Linked DNA regions of Homo sapiens: region 2 is linked to region 1. The links come from fine-mapping of genetic effects on gene expression. A gene starts in region 1. The other region holds a variant in brackets. All regions are shown on one strand. Distances are from middle to middle. Region 1 holds the start of FAS (Fas cell surface death receptor). Region 2 overlaps STAMBPL1 (STAM binding protein like 1).

The links. PIP is the estimated chance that this variant, and not a neighbour inherited with it, causes the effect.
Region 2: its variant is fine-mapped to the expression of FAS in whole blood (TOPMed, PIP 0.93).

What each region holds. Positions count from the first base shown.
Region 1 is chr10:88,987,470-88,995,469 of GRCh38, reverse strand. FAS (Fas cell surface death receptor) reads right to left here and starts at 4,672. Exons shown (of 9, transcript NM_000043.6): 1 at 4,564-4,672. The coding sequence starts at 4,593. FAS-AS1 (FAS antisense RNA 1) reads left to right here and starts at 2,495. Exons shown (of 1, transcript NR_028371.1): 1 at 2,495-4,048. It also overlaps a transcript of ACTA2 not described here. RefSeq lists enhancers at 3,737-3,816, 3,947-4,356, 4,497-5,007, 5,008-5,519 and a silencer at 5,927-5,976.
Region 2 is chr10:88,889,429-88,900,078 of GRCh38, reverse strand. The region is part of intron 1 of STAMBPL1 (STAM binding protein like 1); the gene reads right to left. Among named protein-coding and RNA genes, the nearest start is that of STAMBPL1, 15 kb to the right of the region's middle. RefSeq lists an enhancer at 1,151-1,240. The variant C/T (reference allele first, on the strand shown) is at 6,318.

The sequences.
Region 1 (8,000 bases):
ACTATGATTGCCATTTCTAAATGTCTAAAGATGGGGTGACTGGGCTGTACAACAGTTTATTTCAAATCAAGAAAGCAGTTGTGATCAAAGGGAAGAACCACCTCATTTCCTTCCGGGGAAGGTGAAGTTACCAATCTTACAAAAGTCAATTTCTCTCTGATTTGGGCTTTACTACTCACACTGTCACTTCAAAGACAGTAAAGGTAGGCAAGTGGACTGAAGATTTGTTCCTGCTTGAGACTGAATTGAAGATATTTAATTGGTGTTAGAAGTAGAACTATATAAAAAGCTAAAGACTTTTTTTAAAGCAAGGATTTTCCAGAAAATAAAGAGGATTTATTAAATGTTATTTTTCCACTTTTATGAATATATATATACATACATAGCAAAAAGAAAACTACACACTAAGGCTATTGTAGTGTTGTACCTTATAAGGAAGTACAAGGTACAACATATAAAATTATGTTGCTTTTTATCGTTTTGAATTATTTTATTATTTTTCATCACAAGTCCTAAAATTTTAATATGTAAGTTCTATGAGTAATTTTTTAGTAACAAGAAAAAGTCATATATATATATGTATCCCAGTACATTTAAGAAATGCTTTTTTTCAATAGTAAATTATAAAAATAAGTAATAAATTAAAAAATAAATAATAAAAATTATAGTAATCCCAGCTCATTTAATAAATGCTCTCTCTATAATGTATCCAATAAAAAATATGAGATAAAAATTATGTAGAAATAGAAAAAGGTTTGTGTAACATGCAAAGGAACAAAAAACAGACTATATATAGCTCAAATTAAACATGCAATTATGTATATGTGTAGACAAGGCTAAGAATTTATAAGTAAAATCAAAATTCTTTACATTAGTGTGGTGAGATAAAGTATAAATGTAGTTTTTAAATATTTGCTTTTTGTTTCACATCATGTGGTCATTTTTTCTATATTTACCTATTTAAAAATAAGAAAGGGATGGGTTCACTGTCCTAAATTTGGTTTCAAGTTGCTTTTTATCAATTTCAAGTTTTAAATTGTGTTATTTTATTTTTCATCATAAGTAAATAGTCTTTAGTACCTATTACAAAACATGTGCTCATCAAGGGACTTTTGGGGCCCAAGATAATTTGCCAAAAGCAATTAACTTCCTAGGGGCTTTCAAGTGGGGGGATTTCCTTACTTAGGTTTCAGACCATCTCTTAAGAAACAGTTATTCTCTCAAACTGGCAGTTTACTCTGGTAATCTGGCACCCCTAAAGCAATGTAGTAGCCTTCAAAGAGATTCCTTTGAAACACTGACACTTCTCCTATGTGTCAGTATAAGAGTATTCAGAAGGAAATTACTTGTCCAGTGTCTCAAAGAGCTTACTCAGAGACAACGTCCAAATTCCAGAACTTCTTTGCCTCTAATTTGCTGCTAAGGGTGGTAACTGTATTTCAGGCATGAACATTAGAGGATTTTTCATCAGTCTAACTATAGCTGGTAGTGGGGGTGCTGCCATTTATCAATTTAATTTTTGCTTGCAAACCTGGCCATCATTTACAAATTTGTGTTTTTCCATCCTGGTTGCTAATGTCTTAATTCATATTTTATCATTTTATTGTATTTGTAAGACTTCTCAAGTCCTTTGTGATGTAAATATGGCCCATTAAAAATGAAAATAAACAGCCCAATATGTTCGTTAGGTTGGCTTAAGAAAAATTATTAAATTACAAATTAAGCTACAAAAATAAATAAATATTCCATTTTATGCTCTTTGGGTTGGTTTAAGAAAAATGATTAAATTACAAATTAAATAACTGTTCTTTATTTTCCCCACAAAACTATTCTGTATGACTGCTTGTAAATACACAGCTTTATTTTCCAAAGGCCCTCTCCCTTTCCTTTGACCATAAGATAACCATTCTACAAAATGTAAAGGAGAGCAAACTGGCTGTCCAGTGATTGCCTGGCCAATGTCCTAAATAATGCAAGACAAAACCTGTTGGGGCCCAATAAAATAAAAATCCATGGACTCTTAGAGGCTTCGGAATTCAAATGAGCCTCATGGATCCACATCCCTTCAATTAGCAAGCTGGCATTTCTGAGCGAGGGACTTTCCAAAACAGGCTGCTCAAGTTTCTTGGCCAATAACAGGGTCATGCACAATAAAAAAAAAAAATGCAACCCACAGCTATTTCTCAAATTAATTTGTAAAGTAAGTTTGACTCTTTTTCTGTCTCCTTTAGAAATTTGTCAACTTTTTGGGATTTCAAACTTTTTTATTGTAAGTGTCGGAGTAAAAACACTCAGAAATAGGAAAGAGAAAACTAACACCAGGAAGGTTGAGAGAAGGAAAGAGAAAGAGAAGCAAAAGGGGTTAAGGATGGGGATACTTGTTGACTATAGTTATCACCAGAGTCAGAGGACTAGGGGAAGAGGGGAAAAGCAGAAAACAGCTCCCCACCCATCTATGTCCAGCCCATTAATAGAATTAAAATTTGCTTCTGTATTCCAAGTAATTAGCACTTTGCATCTATTTTATTTATTGCTACTACTAAGAAAACATAACCGTGAAGGCATAAAAGCAAACATTTTCTGTAGACACATGAGGTGACACAAGAGTGTTGAAACTTCTTTAAGGATAAAGGCCTGATGTTAGGCATGTCGTGAGCGCAAAACCAATTTCTGTGTAACTAAATTTAAAAGAGTCATATTAGAGGGGAGAAATGGAAGATAAACTGCAAAACGTAAACAATGATTACTTAGGTGATAGAGTTATGTCTGATCTTTGTATTTGACTCATCTGCATTTATAAATTTTATTTAATAAGCCTTAATTTCCTAGGCCATATATCATATACAAATATAAGTTATACCTAACTTATAGGTATTATAATATGTATATATACATAAATGTATGAATATTTACATATGCGTGTGTGTGTGTATTCTTTCAGAAAAGCAAAGTTTTCTTCGGGCTTTAAACACGCAGCCTCTGGTAAAGGTGCTATTGGTACAAAAGTTCAACAAGCATAGCTCCAAGCTTTGACAATTTTCTTACACTTTACTAATACTGCTGTCCAAAAACTATGAGATTTTCAAAGCAGCCAACATTGCAGTGGTGCAATGGTTAATAACAAGAGAGAGAAGAGTGTGGCCTGAGGTTGTATAAATGTTTTCTCAATCTTGAATCATTAATTTTCTCCAAGGAAGTTTCTAAAGAATCCCAAATAGTGCACACTATTTCTGAAAGGAACAGGATTTTTTTTTCTAATCATAAAATGGACCCAGACATCTCAGCCTCTTGGTGTAATCTGGATATCAGATGCAATCAGCGAACAGCCTGAGTTTTGGAATTAGATCTGAGTTCAATCCCATATCTCCCATTTACTAGCTGTGTGATCTTGGCTGAATTACTGAAGCTCTCTGAACCTCATTTCGCCATCTGTAAAATGGGGATGTGGTTATCTTCCCCACTACATGGCTCTCGTGAGAATCCGCGGAGATCACATTTGTAAACACTTCTCTCGCTATGCCTGGCACTTTGTTGGGGCCCAATAAAATAAAAATCCATGGACTCTCAGAGGCTCCGGTACTCAAATGAGCCTCCTGGATCCACGTCTCTTTGATTAGCCATCTGCAAGCTGGCATTTCTGAGCGAGGGACTTTTCAAAACAGGCTGCTCAAGTTTCTTGGCCAATAATAGGCGCCGGGTTCTGTGCGGTGGGAACGAGTACCACCAACCCCAGCAGGAGACCAAGCAGAAATCACCATGGGAGTGCAAGCTAAGAAAGGGCAAAAGAAGAAAGAGAAGGGCAGAAAAACAAAACAAAATGAAACCACTCAGGCAGCGACTTACAGTCTTAAAGAGAGAATTCCCGGAAGGGAGACAAGGCAGTTTCTTTTTCTGTGTGACAATAAAAAACGGTAAACAAGCCTCCAGAAGCTCATTCAGCCCCCATATAACTTTTTCGAGAAAGAAAAGGTGCCGTTCTTCCGAGCCCTCCGGCTTAACCACTGCTTCGGTGCTGACTTATTTCCTACGTCTGAGAACTGCCAGAAAATGAGCAATATCTGTTCTGAAGGCTGCAGGCTCTCTCCCCGCCCCCGCGGGGCGGCGCGCACTCACCCACCCGCGCCGGAGCGGACCTTTGGCTTGGCTTGTCAGGGCTTGTCCAGGAGTTCCGCTCCTCTCTCCAACCGGGGTCCCCCTCCAGCGACCCTAAAGCTTCCCAGACTTCCGCTTCAATTCCTGTCCGCACCCCACGCCCACCTCAACGTGGAGCGCAGTGGTCTCCGAGGAGCGCCGGAGCTGCCCCGCCTGCCCAGCGGGGTCAGCACTTCGCATCAAGGCCCAAGAAAAGCAAGTCCTCCAGCGTTCTGAGCACCCGGGCCTGAGGGAAGGTCCTAACAGCCCCCGGGAGCCAGTCTCCAACGCCTCCCGCAGCAGCCCGCCGCTCCCAGGTGCCCGCGTGCGCCGCTGCCGCCGCAATCCCGCACGCGTCCCGCGCCCGCCCCACTTTGCCTATCCCCGGGACTAAGACGGGGTAAGCCTCCACCCGGGCAGGAGAGGGCTCACCAGAGGTAGGAGGGTCCAGATGCCCAGCATGGTTGTTGAGCAATCCTCCGAAGTGAAAGAGCTTCCCCAACTCCGTACTGAGCGGGTCCACCAACCCGCGGGAGAAGAGGCAGCTCCGCCTGGGCAGCCAGGGCTGGCCTCAGGGTGTGTTCCGTGCCAGTGCCCGCCCCTGAGGCTCCAGCCAAGTCACTCGTAAACCGCTTCCCTCACTCCCCAGAAGCGTCTTTGAACACCTGTGTGTCACTCTTGCGCGAGATCAGAGACGAGCTCACGAAAAGCCCCGGTGGTCAGGAGGATGGGAAGGAAGCCTCGCTGGGGAACGCCCGGGTTGGGGAGGGCTCCATTGATTCAGCAACTTGGCCTGCGCGCGGGTAGGGAGGGGGAGAAGTCAGGGTGAGGAAGGAGTCAGGGTTCGTTGCACAAATGGGCATTCCTGTCCCGGGGCGTTCCTGCAGTGGCTGGCATGCTCACTTCAGGTGAGGACCTCGAGAGCCGGCCTCCTGCCCTTTCTAAAGGCTTCTGCTGTAGTTCAACCTGGGAAGTTGGGGAGGTCTTGAAGGAGAATGGAGCTCAGAGCGCAGAGGTCCTGCCTGGGTACAGGAGCCTTGGCTAATTGCTGGAGTCACTCAGAGAAAGACTTGCGGGGCATTTGACTGGGCTGTCCATGTTGTGGCTGCAACATGAGAGGCTCACAGACGTTTCTGGAATGGACAGTTAACCATATGAAAAAGTACAGATGTTGCGCCATAGGGCTCTGAAAAGGGAGGGCCCCTTAGTTTTTATTTCTCAAGAGGAAAACAAAGCTAACAACTTAAGCCAAATCGCATAGCCCCAGCTATATTAAACATTCACAATTACTTCCTGTCCTTCGTTACTCATTATTTCCTGGCCAATTTTCTTTAAAAAAAAATCTTGTAATTCTTTCGTGCTCTGGTGAACACTGTTCAAAGTCACTATTGCTTTGGAACGGTAGATAGCTCTTAGGTAGTTTAGCATGAATTTTACAGAAGGTATGTTTGGATAATGACATCATTACTGAACCTGAATTTGGATGCAGTTCCAGACTGGACACACTAAAGGTTTCAGTATTCCTTTGGCATCGTCCACCAAGCTCTGCACCTCACTCTGCAACCTCTCTCCCTTCCCAATTAGATTCAACCCATTAATAACACATTAATAACCCTTTGCTTAGCCCACTGTTCATCCTTCAGGCTTCCTCTCAGTTGACATTTTCTTCTGGAGCCTGTTTGGGCCCTCAAATCTAGGTTAGGTTACCCTCCTGAGGGCTTTCCATCACCCTGTGTTTTGCATCTGTCACTGCACTTACCACCAGTCTTGTAGGTGTTGATAGGCTTGTCTCTGTTCCACCTTTCAGTAGACTGTTAGTGCCATGAGGAAGACCCTGGGCGTGCCAGCCTTGTGCACACACTCTGAGCATCTAATAGACACAAAAAGAAGTGGGATAAGGAGGATGGTATATGGGCATTCTCTGTATTATCTCTGCAAATTTTTTGAAATCCTAAAACTATTCCAAAATGAAAAGTTCATTTAAATAAAAAAATGTAAAAAGAAGGAAGGAAAAGGGGTGTGAGGGAAGGAAAGGAGAGGTAAGGGAAGAAGGAATGGAAGGAGGGAAGAGAGAAAAAAAGGGGAAAGGACAATTGACAAAATCAGTATCTCTTGAGTGTGAATTATAAGCCAGCAACTCACATATGTGGATCTTCCTTACTTAATACTTATCATTATAGCCCAGTGAGATGAGTGATTATTAAACTTACTTTACAAATAAAAAAATGTAGCCAAAAAAGCTTAAGCAACATTGGCAAAGATGGTTAGTTAATAAATAGCAGAGTCAGGAATTAAACTTAGATATTCTTGCTCCCAAGGTCCTGCTCTTTCTATGCCATACCCCCTTCCCCTACCCTCTGCCCACGTACGTCTAATTATCCTCAAGTTCAAGGAGATAGGAATATGTGCTTTGTGGGGAGACATATGTTTCATGGTCAAATAATCTTAGAAAATTCTGGGTTACTTTAATTTGAAAACTTTCTGAATCCAAAACTTCTCAGGGCCCTTAGTATGCTAATGTCAAAGGGTTGGGTAATTATATATACTGTTCCCCAAACTTCTTTGCCTTTGGAATCCTTTGAAGAATCTATTGAATGAACACCTAATGAATGCTGGTGTTCTGGGGAAAACAGTTTGGGCATCTCTAAAGGTTATTTTTATTTTACCAGCATATTCCTGAGAGTCCTCAGGCCTTCAAGGGCAAAGAAATAAAATTTTAATAATAGAATTTCAGGCACTCCAACAGATGTTGGAGATATTTTGGACAACCATCCTTATTCAAACCATACCATATAAGTTAAAGCTTCTACTCAAAAGATATCCTGGTTTCTGAACATTCTGAATAACACTTAAACAAGAATCTTGACTATGTAAAAAAACAGGAAGAGTTAAGATAAAAAACAAAACAAAAAAAAAAAAAAACTTCTACATCTTTTTACCACTAAGACTTTTGTTCTTTTCCCCTTTGGTCCTAATGTTTAAAAAATGTTGTCAACCAAATTGTTTTTACTAAATTGCAATAAGTTGATTTTAATAACTCCCAGCTATAGTGTATATCCATGACTGTTTATCCTGCCTTTCTCCTTCTTCTTCCTTCTGGTAATAGTACTTCCAAGTTGTCTTTAGAAAAACTGTCCCTCTCCCCTCTTCTTAACTATTTGATGTGAGTGGTTCTTTTAGTCAGGGTTCTCTAGAGAAATAGAACCAAGAGAATGAATAAATGGAAAGATAGATAGGAGTTGGCTCACGTGATTGTAGAGGCTGGCAAGTCCAAAACTTTAGCATTGGCCAACAGGCTGGAGACCCATGAAAAAGTTATAGTTCAAGTCCAAAGGCCGTCTGCTGGCATAATTCTCACTCACTCAGTGGAAGTCAGTCTTTTTTTTTTTCTTTTTTAAGGCCTTCAACTAACTGGATAAGGCCTATTGACATTATAGAAAGCAAATGTTTTACTCAAAGTGTAAAGATTTAAATGTTAATCCCATCCAAAACATTGCTTTACAGAAACATCTAAGATAGTGTTTGACTAAATAGCCAAGTGCCATGGCCTAGCTAATTTGATACATAAAATTAACCATCACAGTGGCATTGGTACCAATCCCAGGGCTTGGGTATATGTGTAGGTGGAGGGAGGTAGTGGGTGGGAAATGTGACTTGGCTTAAGCCAATCAGCACATCACATTCAGTTGGAGTAGATTTTGGGATCTTTACTGGAAACACTGGGACACAAACCCTTTCTTTTTCATTGGATTTGAAGTAGAAATATGTGAGATGTGAAACTGATGTGGTTGGTTGTGAAGGGAGCTTGTGGCCCTGCCAGAGCTGAAAACAGTCAACTCATGCTGAGAGGAAACCACACTGAGAGGAAA
Region 2 (10,650 bases), 97 kb after region 1:
GCAGGCTAAAAAATGCCCAAGAAAGAAAAAACATGGTTCATCACAGTGTAGTTTAGAAGCTGAGTTAACAATTTTGGCACCACTGAATGTAGGCAATCCCAACTGAGGAATTAATACTTCTCAGTGAGAAGAAATAAACCAGGAAAAAAAGACGTTAAAAGCGTTAAAAAGACAGAGCAAAGGCTTATGGGGAATGTGAAGCCGGGGAGGGAGGGGAACAAGAAAACACTAGTAAGTCATTTATTAGGGCCTTATAAAAGAGTAGAATTGGCCAGACACAGTGATTCACGCCTGTAATCCCAGCACTTTGGGAGGCCGAGGCAGGCGGATCACCTGAGGTCAGGAGTTCAAGACCAGTCTGGGCAACGTGGTGAAACTCCGTCTCTACTGAAAATACAAAAATTAGCCAGGCGTGGTAGTGCACGCCTGTAATCCCAGCTACTAGGGAGGCTGAGGCAGGAGAATTGCTTGAATCCATGGGGCGGAGGATGCAGTGAGTTGAGATGGCACCACTACACTCTAGCCTGGGTGACAGAGCGAGACTCCAGCTCAAAAATAAAATATTTAAAAAGTAGAATTATTTCTTTTGATGATTGCTCAGATCCATAAAGAGAGAGCATAGAATTTAAAAGGTTGAAAATATTAGGATAGCGGTTTTTACATTTTACTGCATCTAAAATCACATAAACCTGAGATCTGTTTAAAATGCAGTCTCCTAAGACCCACCCTAAGGATTCTGAATCCATCGGTTTTAAGCCCACAAGTAGGTATTGTCAGATATGGCCCAGTCATTCCAATACATGAGGTTTCCAAACAATACTTTGAGAGACACTGCATTTCAGAATGAATTAAGCAGGATTCTTAATTGCAGGCAAAGGTCTGACTCTTGAATTCACAGAAGGATAATGAAAAAAAACACAAACTTCTAGGAAGGCCAGAGAAATCAGGTTTGGAAGCTACATATCCAAGAACACTGCCCCAGACTACACAGCAGCATTGGTCTGGTGAAAACACCTCTGCTATCTCTATCACTTGATGAACAGGGGATTCTACAGCTTCTACTACCAACACCAGCAACTCCAGCAACTAGCTGCTGCCCTGGGAACGATGTGCAGCCGCCATGTACTTCTGCATGTCTCTAGTTTCTATTTCAAAGCATGAGATGCAGATGTCTGACTGGCAAAGTCTGGGTCCCATGCCTGCAGCCTGGCTGAAAAGATGGCCGAAAATGTAAATATCTAGCACTTTATCCTCCTGTAGGAGGCAGTGGGATATGCCAAGAGAGGAAAGGTGGATTCAGGGCTGGGTGACCAGAAAACAATGCTAAGTGTGAGCAGAAACAATGAAACAAACATCTCTGTAATGAGCTTCTATATGTATGAAATGTTTAAACATATCTTAAACATCAGAGTTTATTAAATTACTATAGATAAAAACTATTCACTCCCACATATGAATATATTAATAATTCAGAAATAGAAGCCAACTCCCCTCAAATCTAAGATGAAAGAAGTTCACAGACTGGTCAGTCAACTTATTTTTTGAACCATGTATTAGCTGATGGTCCTGTCTTAATTCCTTTATCTTTTTGCCCCCTAGTCCTGGCACTTACAGTTGCATTATAAACAATTGCAAGATCAACATAAACAGGTATGTTTTCTAGTTCAGTGGCTCTCAAAATGTGGTCCAGGTTCCCCACGATCCTGTCAGGGAGTCTGTGAGGTCAATATTACTTTCATAATATTACTAAAGCATTATTTGACTTTTTAAATATCAATCTTTCACAGTTGTATAGTGGAGATTTCCAGAGGGTACAAGAGTTAATGGAATGCTTACTTGCATACTCTTATAAATGTCTGTTTTGATTTTTAATACAGTAAATATAAATAGATATAACTCACATAAACAAAGCTTTTTAGTGTCCTTAGTAATTAAGAGTGTAAAGGGGTTCCAAGACCAATAAAGTCTGAAAACCACGGCTCTAGATCAACAATGCAAATGAATAAACAAAACAAAAACTCACTATGCTACCTCAATCTAATCAGAAATAAAGTGGGCCAGGAGAATCTAAAACAGGAAAAATTAACAGCAAGTACCACTTGCCATTTGTGCTACTGTGGTCTTACTAAAACAATTAGAAAATTTGAACTGAGGGTACAGTAAGAGGTACTTCACCTCATAGTACTTGAGATCCACAGATGCTAACTAATGGGAAGTATTCAGTATCATGCAAGAATAAAATAAATTCCCCCTCCAAAGTGGAGGTCCAAAGTGCTACAAAGCACACGGTGCAAACAGCCTTTGGAGTGAGATAAGCCTGGGTGTTGAGTCTAGGCTCTATCATTTGCTTGCTAAATATCCTTTACTGAGCCCCCTCCAAGGTTTACTTTACTCATTCGGCAGGGCGCTTGTCACAGCCACACTTCGCTGCTTTTAGAGTGGCTTAAAACTAATGGAAAACATTCATCAGAAACGCCCGCTTTAATCTCAGCCTACTCCCTGACCTCTACCTCACATTCTTGTGGCTTGATAACATCTGATCATCTGAACTACAGCCTTGTGATCTGTTTAACCTCTAAGATATCTCTTCAGAGTTCTTGCTTCAGAGCTCTTGCCTTCTTGCTTTTATTGCTAGCCCCTTTTCCTGACCATAACCTCCAAAGACATCATCATTTTTTTTCTTTAATCTGACCTTTTATAGAGGAGTAGGGGAGTGTCTGCTTTCTGTTAATCCGACTCACAAGAATGTGGGGAATCATGGTGTCAGAACCATACATATTCACAATGAGCACATGGAGGCCAACCCCTGTCCCAGAGATTCAGCTAACAAGTAGCTCCCAGAACCAACTGAGCAGTCGACTGTGCCCAGAGGGGATGTGGCCAAAATGCTGTCTCATCCATAAGTGGCCTGGGAGGGGGTAAGTATCCTCTCCAAATTGGTATTTCACAGCTCTGAGCTTGTAACAGTTTATTCTCTACATAACCATAGCAAAATCCTCTTGGCTTTTGTGTCCCTGCAATGTTTCCAAGTCTGAAGTCCCCCATGGAAACATGGAAGAGTCTCAACAATTCTGCCCTTTAAAATCAGCAGCAAACAATGCAAGAATGAACAGAGGAAAATATCTGACCTAGCATGGTGCTTATTTTGTGATTTTTTCAGCCTTAATTTCCTTTTCTTTTCTTTCTTTCTTTTTCTTAAAATAGTGTGTGTGTGTGCGTGCGTGCATGTATGTGTGTGTTTGTGTGTGTGTGGCAAAGTTCAGAATCCTGACCCATTTTCATCCACAGAGAAATATTTTCCAGAATTCAGAAAGCAGATGATTACCAGGCAGTGAACGGTCTCCTAAGAGACTCAGCATACAGTAAACAGCCAGCGAGACCATCACCCAAATGTGCCATTTTCTCCCAGGCACTTCTTTTGACTTGAGTGCCCTAGTGACCTGGATAAGTAGGTGTGGCCCATTGGCAGTTAAGAGAGGACAGAGCACCTTATACCACCTCCAGCAGTCTCATTTCTAATTGGCCAAACCAACAGCCACTGGGTTAGTGGTCATGTTTTCCAGGAAGAACATGGTGCAATTTACTCAGTTGGAGGTAGACAAAGAAAATTATTGTAACTCAGCCTGTAGGCTGCAATGACCTAATCTGATTTAGATAAAGAGAGGTAAAGGGTCATTCCCATGTCTTAAATGACAGAGACACAAAGAAGGATCTCCTGAGTCACAGTCTTACAGATTGGGCCCTACTTCAGGAAAAATAAATAAATCTAGGCCCACCCTTCATGTCCCTTTTGAAGGATTTTAAAAATTCAGACATCAAAAGCAAAGATTACATTGATTTGTTTTTACACTTATCTTCTATAATATCTGCAATCAGAAATATGCTGTGACATAGATGATAAATTATCTTTACTAAAATATTGATAAGATAAAAACGAAATGATCATAATATTAGAAATAGCTTTTATTGGATTTTTTCCCTATATTTGTAAGTACTATATATTATCATTTACTAGGTGCCAGGTGCTTGTCTGTTACTTCTAGAGGTATATTCCACATTAAATATACCAGTCACAACAGAATGGTTTATATTAGATCAATGAGCAAGAATGTAGTTGTTACAGGAAAGATGATTAAACAAACCACTCCTGATGCATGTGTTAAATTACCTTGAGGTAGATCTAGGCTACTGTGAGTGCAAGAAAGTCACATACTGGGCCATAAAATAATTATTTTGCATAGTGTAATACAAACTTTTTATCCAGCCACCAAGATGAAGTGGTTCGGTGCCCTTAGCACGAAGAGCTCAGGTTTGGGGGCCATATACTACTTTAGGAGGGGCCAGTTTCTATCACTAGTTGGGAGTGCTACAGCAGCTTATTTAACCTTTTTGTGCACCTTATCTTCATCTATTAAATAGGCACAACAATAGCTTTCCAGAAGAATTCAACTAAAGCTTAAATGAGGTAATAAAGTTCCATTATAGTTCCCAGCTTGCAGGAAGAAACTCAAAGAAAATCAGTTCTTTCTCACAGCAAATGTTGGAGAGGTGAGGTTAATGACCTCTGCTAAAAGTTGACTTCTATTACAGATATCAGATGGTCGGTTGATGTGTAACTACTTGCTTCTTTGCAATGAGCTTTTGACAGACAGTTATCTATCCCCTAGCCACCACTACTTCTTCCTCACCAGCAGGGCCCAGTCCCACTAGAGATAGTCACTTTCTCAGTCTCCCTTGTAGTCAGGACTTGGCTGGTTGGCAAGTAACCAAATATTGGACAATGAGACCTGAGGGGAAATCTGTTGGGAGGATTCTGTGAGAAATTTTCATCTCTAATACAAAGAGACATCCTAGGGAATATATGCCTTTTCATCAGCTGAACATGTGACTTCACATAAGTTTTAAAAGGCAGCAGCCATTTTGCAACCTAGAAGGGTCAAGTCCAAGGACAGCCAGTGTCTGGAGGATGGCAGAACCCAAGGGTGGAATGAGCCTGGCTCCTTGCTCACATGGCTGAGCTGCTGATCTTACCCTAAAACCGTTCTCTTCTAAATTGTTATTATATAAGATTTAAAATGCCATTACAAAAGGCACTCTTAGGATTCTGTAATATGCTCCCTAATTAGCATAGGATTCCTCTGGAAATATAAGAAAATCTTTAGCTATATGAATCCCGTGACAAAAGAGGTGATTCTGAATAGTAAAATAGTAAATAATAATCATAAAATATTATGAGATTTAAATATTTTTGAAGGAAACAGTTCTAAGATATATTATTTACTCCTTAACTTAAAATAGAAACATTAACCCTTTCTTCATAATTCAACATTAACAATGCTTCCCTCCATTTCTAATTTGCTCCGTTTAATCTGTCATTCATTTAGAAAAAAATCACTTAAAAGGCAACTTATTTACTAAACTTCTTGAATTCGGTCTTTTTCCTCCTTTAATCTATTTTCTCTCATTGATAAAAATTATTTGAGATTATTTACAGAATGAAAGTATAGACTAGGTGTGCATCAGGAGAGATCTTCTGTGAGTGAACCACCTGCTGATTACAGTGAATGTGCTACATGATTTCTAATTTTGCTGCTCAAAATGCCTTTTATCTTGTTTTTTCTAGACTGCCTTCTAGGTAAGAGTGAGCTGAATTCTGGGCAGGCAAGGTACTATGTCGCCTTCAATAGAAAAAGATAGCCAAAAAAAAAACCTGTATAAAACAATAGGTACCATTAGCAGAATGCTTTCGTTCCCTGGCTAACTGGATGCATGAACACACATGATCTCAGTTAGCCTTCTCCAATAGGAGGTAGTTGAGCCTTGGGATTAGACATGCAGTCTCCAGGGTTAGAACATCTGAATTCAAATTCTGGCTCCAGGAACCACTAACAGCAGAACTGCAGCTTCCCAAACTGCAAAGGAGGTTGATAATGAATAGGGGTACTGAGAAGGTAAAGTGAGATAATGCTTGTAAAACATATAGCACAATGCTTGGTGCCAGGAAACACTCAAATGATTACGACCATGATTTCCATTTTACAGATAAGAAAACTAAAGCCTAGAAGAGATAAGTAATTCAAGCAAATGACAGAGCAGGGACTCTAAGTGCACAGGAGTTCAGGGCTTATACTCACAGTCACACTGCAACACTAACGACTTGCCTCTCATAATAATCAGGAAAATCCAAGAGAAGGTCACATCCTTGGGCCTTGGACAAGAATGAAAAAATTTACTGTGGAAATGAAGATTTCAGTTCAGCATTACAACTATCTGATTCATTATCTCCTCCCTGCCAAAGAAATAAAAGGACATTCATT[C/T]CCTTCACATTTTTTTGTTGGAGAGGAAATTTCACTCTTGTTGCCCAGGCTGGAGTGCAATGGTGCAATCTCAGCTCACTGCAACCTCCGCTTCCTAGGTTCAAGCGATTCTCCTCTTTCAGCTTCCTAAGTAGCTGGGATTACAGGCATGCACTACCATGCCTGGCTAATTTTGTATTTTTAGTAGAGACGGGGTTTCACTATGTTGGCCAGGCTGGTCTCGAACTCCTGACCTCAGGTGATCCGCCCGCCTCGGCCTCCCAAAGTACTGGGATTACAGGTGTGAGCCACCGTGCCCAGCTCCCTTCACTTTTTTCATCGGCAGAATGATTCAGTGTTTGTGGACTGACTACATGGTATATGTAGTTAAGAAATTCAAATCCATAATTATTCTATCTAGACACAGTTCAATTCAAAATATTTGCTGGTTTTTAATATAAATTCTACATTTTTGTGCTATATCAAAGGCATTTCATATGCTCATCAATGTGCTAATTTTAGATTCTTTTCTAAATGTGATGATTCAATTAATATGCATTATAAAACACTTGGCAAATGAATTTGAGGTGCTGGAGAGAGATTCATATTTGTACACAGATATTTTTTCACCACAAATTCATATGAACTTGCTAATTTGCTCTCCTCCTGTTAAAATACTAAACATTCCTGGAAATAATGCATTTCTAAAGATAAGCTACCCATAAGGCACTAAACTTTAATGTACCTTTTAATATACTTCCTTTTTTATTGGAATTTTGCTTTTAAGAAAATACTATCCAAAAGATACTTAGTTCAATGAAGTATAATGAGTCACAAATAAATGTTTGAAATAGCATCATTTTCCTGCCTGCCAGTTGCCTGAAAGCTCAGAAATGTAGTTAGTCCTTGGGCATTATTAATCAATTTTATTTAATTTTCATAACTTTCTTAAGGACAGTAGTTCTACAAAATGGACTGAGTCCAGCACTATTATTCAAAAGCAAAAGAGGGCCATCCTGAAGTACTTGTCATCCACTGCTTCTCCAGTGTTCTCCAACCACAAGAATCTTAACTGTTTAACATGTCACAGCAGAGGCTGTATTCATACATTTGGTTTTGCACTGGACAATCTCTTCAATGCAGTAGGCAGAAACAGAAAAAAGTTTCCTTCTTAACTTTCCCTGGCAATCCATTTTAAAGAGTTTTCTTGAAGAGCTCCTTATTCTGGCAAAGTTGTTAGCAAGTGGTCATCTGCTGTCCAAATTTGCTCACCATTCATCCCCTTCCTACCTTCCTACCCTAGAGCTGACATCCCCCTGATTTGGATGCCATGTTCCCTCTGGGAGTGGTTCCTGGATAACTTGCCTGCATTACAATGACTTGGTGGAGGAGGGGTGTGCTGGCCACACACACACACACACACACACACGCACACGCACACACACAGACACATACACAAACCCCACAGATTTCTAGGCCCCACTGAGTCAAAATTTCTGGGAAGGGTGCCCCAGGGATCTCCAGCCCAGGATGTTTTTATGCACATTAAAACTTGAGACTCACTGCATTAAACAGTTACAAACCCCCACTAAGCACCTGGCCCTGATCAGCTGAACTTTCCCTATTTAAAATCAACTCCTGCCTTGGCCTCTCTGAAGTGGAGGTGTTTCCTTTCTCCTCCCTCACCCTGCATCTCAAATATTAATATTTCATCTTTTTTTCTTGATATATCTTTATTCTATAAGACACCTTTTTTTTTCATGGCTTCAGCTTAATTTGAGCTTTAGCATTGTACCTTCAAATGTCCTCCATCCATTTCCACCAGGATACCCAACTGTTATTTTTCATTCAATACAATCCAAGGCTAAATGGATCTTTCCTGTAAAAACTGATAGCTCCAAATAAATTTATTTATTCATTCATTTATTCAATGTTACTTATAAAGCCCCTACTTTGTGCTTTTATGGACCTTACATTCTGCTAAGGACCAGGAATGGGGCAGAGAGGTGTAAAAATAATAAACAATTATCTACACAATTATCTAATAAAGATTGTGGTGACTGTGAGAAAGATGAAATACAGAAAACAATGAGAGTTATGCATTTTTTTGGCAAAAAAATACCTTATAAGTGATGGTGTATCCTCCATGATGTATCAGGAGACATATGTTATTGATTTGTTCAATTATTAATGATGTTAATCGTGATATTTGTTTAAGTTATATCGGTCAGGTTTCTCCACGATACTATTTTTCTCTTTATAATTGAAAAGTATCTTGTAGGGAAACTATGCAAATATACCATTGCCCACTAATTTTAGCATTTGAAGATTTTTTTCCCTGAGACAATTATTGTGGTGTTTGAAAGTGGCCATTTTTCTATTTCTATTTTTCCTTCTATAATTATTAGTTCAGCTGACATTCTTGCTTGAAAGCTGTTTAATTTTTACATGGAATTTTTAAAATTTAAGCTTTCAAGTGGACCTATTTTCTTTATGGTATCTAGGTTTCTCAACATTCTTTAAAAGGTCTTCAAACTTACTCATCATAAACAATTTTAAAATATGTCTACTGATCTTTTCTTCTGGTACTTCTGTGGTTAGTCATTTTTGGATAAATACATTTGACCTGTGTGGAATTTATTTTTTGTAAGGAGTGAAAGAAGAATATGGTCCTTTCTTGACCGCTAGGCAGAATGGCCTTTTTCCTTCTGCCTCAATTATAACTCGGAATTGACTCCAGTTCCATGAAATATACTTAACTTACTTAATTCCCAACTCTTCCCAACAAAGTGATCTGCCCAAACGAGGCACTTAGTACATATTTATTAAACACACATACTCTGGAAGCGATGGATAAAGTTACAGAGAATAGAGGAATTGGTAGCCCAGAGAGGAAGCAAGTATGCAACACTGGAATGAGGAAACCCTTGTCCAAACTGAAGAGCAGTGAAAGAAATGGAGAAGGACAAACAGTTATTGGGAAAGATTCTGAGGAAAAACCATAGAACTTGGAAGCTAAGTGGCTATAATGAGATACAGAAGCATAAATAAGCAAATATATTGTAAATGTTGGCATCTAAAAGAATTGGAGATGGTGATGCTTCTGACTTCACTATCAGAGGTGAAGAATTGTCTCTTTCATCTCCATGGATGGTACCAACATCCAATCACTTACACAAATATCTGGCAAACGCTGATATTAGCAATCCTGCACCTACCCCTTCCCTTAACCCCACATCCAATCTATCACCTGCATGTGCAGATTCAGATTCACCCTCCAAAACATCTCTCAAAACTGCAGGTTTTCACCGTCTTTGCGGGGAGGCTCCTTAATGTACACCCCACCCTTTTCTCTGCCTGCATTGCTAGAACTGCCTCCTAGTTGTTGTATTTGTTTCTATCTTGCTCCCCTTTGATTAATTCTACCTGGTGAAGAATCTACCTGTAGTGATCTTTTAAAAACCTGATTCAGATATTGCCATTCCTTTGCTTAAAGCCCTTGAATGATGTTCTATTGCTGTTAATATCCTATAACCTTAATAAGTCCCACAAAGCTGGGTCTGACCAGACTGCCTCCTTAGAGCCTTCTTTCACACCACCTCCTCCACTGGCTTCTTTCAGTTGCTTAGATGCACTATGCAAAGTCAATGCAAAGGCACCCCATCCTCAGTTCATACTTCCACTTTCTACCCATCTTTCTGGTGTTAGCTTAAGCATCTCTTTTTCAGGCAAGTTATTTTTGACCATCATCAGACTAGGTCACTCTCTTGATTACATACTCATGAAGAAACATCAAATAAACCCAAATCAAGGGATTTTCTAGGAAACAATCAGCCAATGCTCTTAAAAAGTGTCAAGATCATGAAAGACAGAAAGACTTAGGAACTATTGCAGATTAAAAGAGACTAAGGAGGCATAACAAATGAATTCAATGTATGATCCCAGAAAGGATCCTTGCCCAGAAGGACTTCGGTGAAATTTGAATAAGATCTGTAGATTAGACAATAGTATTGTGTCAGTGTTAATTTACTGATTTTGATGACTACTGTGGTTTTGCAAGGTGTTAATATTTGAGGAATCAGGGTAAAGGTTGTATAAAAACTTTGTGTACTGTTTCCACAATCTTTTGAAAGTCTAAAATTATTTTAAAATAAAATATTCTGTAAATGCTTGAATAGTACTTTTAAAAATCTTTTCAACAAGTAAAAGAATAAAAAAGTTTGCACCACTGACAGCTATAATATTTATTATCTGTAAACTATAGGAAACATTTGCATAACAGTAAGAAAAAGAGTAAAAATGGGCAAGTGACATGAGCAAGTAATTAAGAGAAATATAAACAGTTAAGTCACAA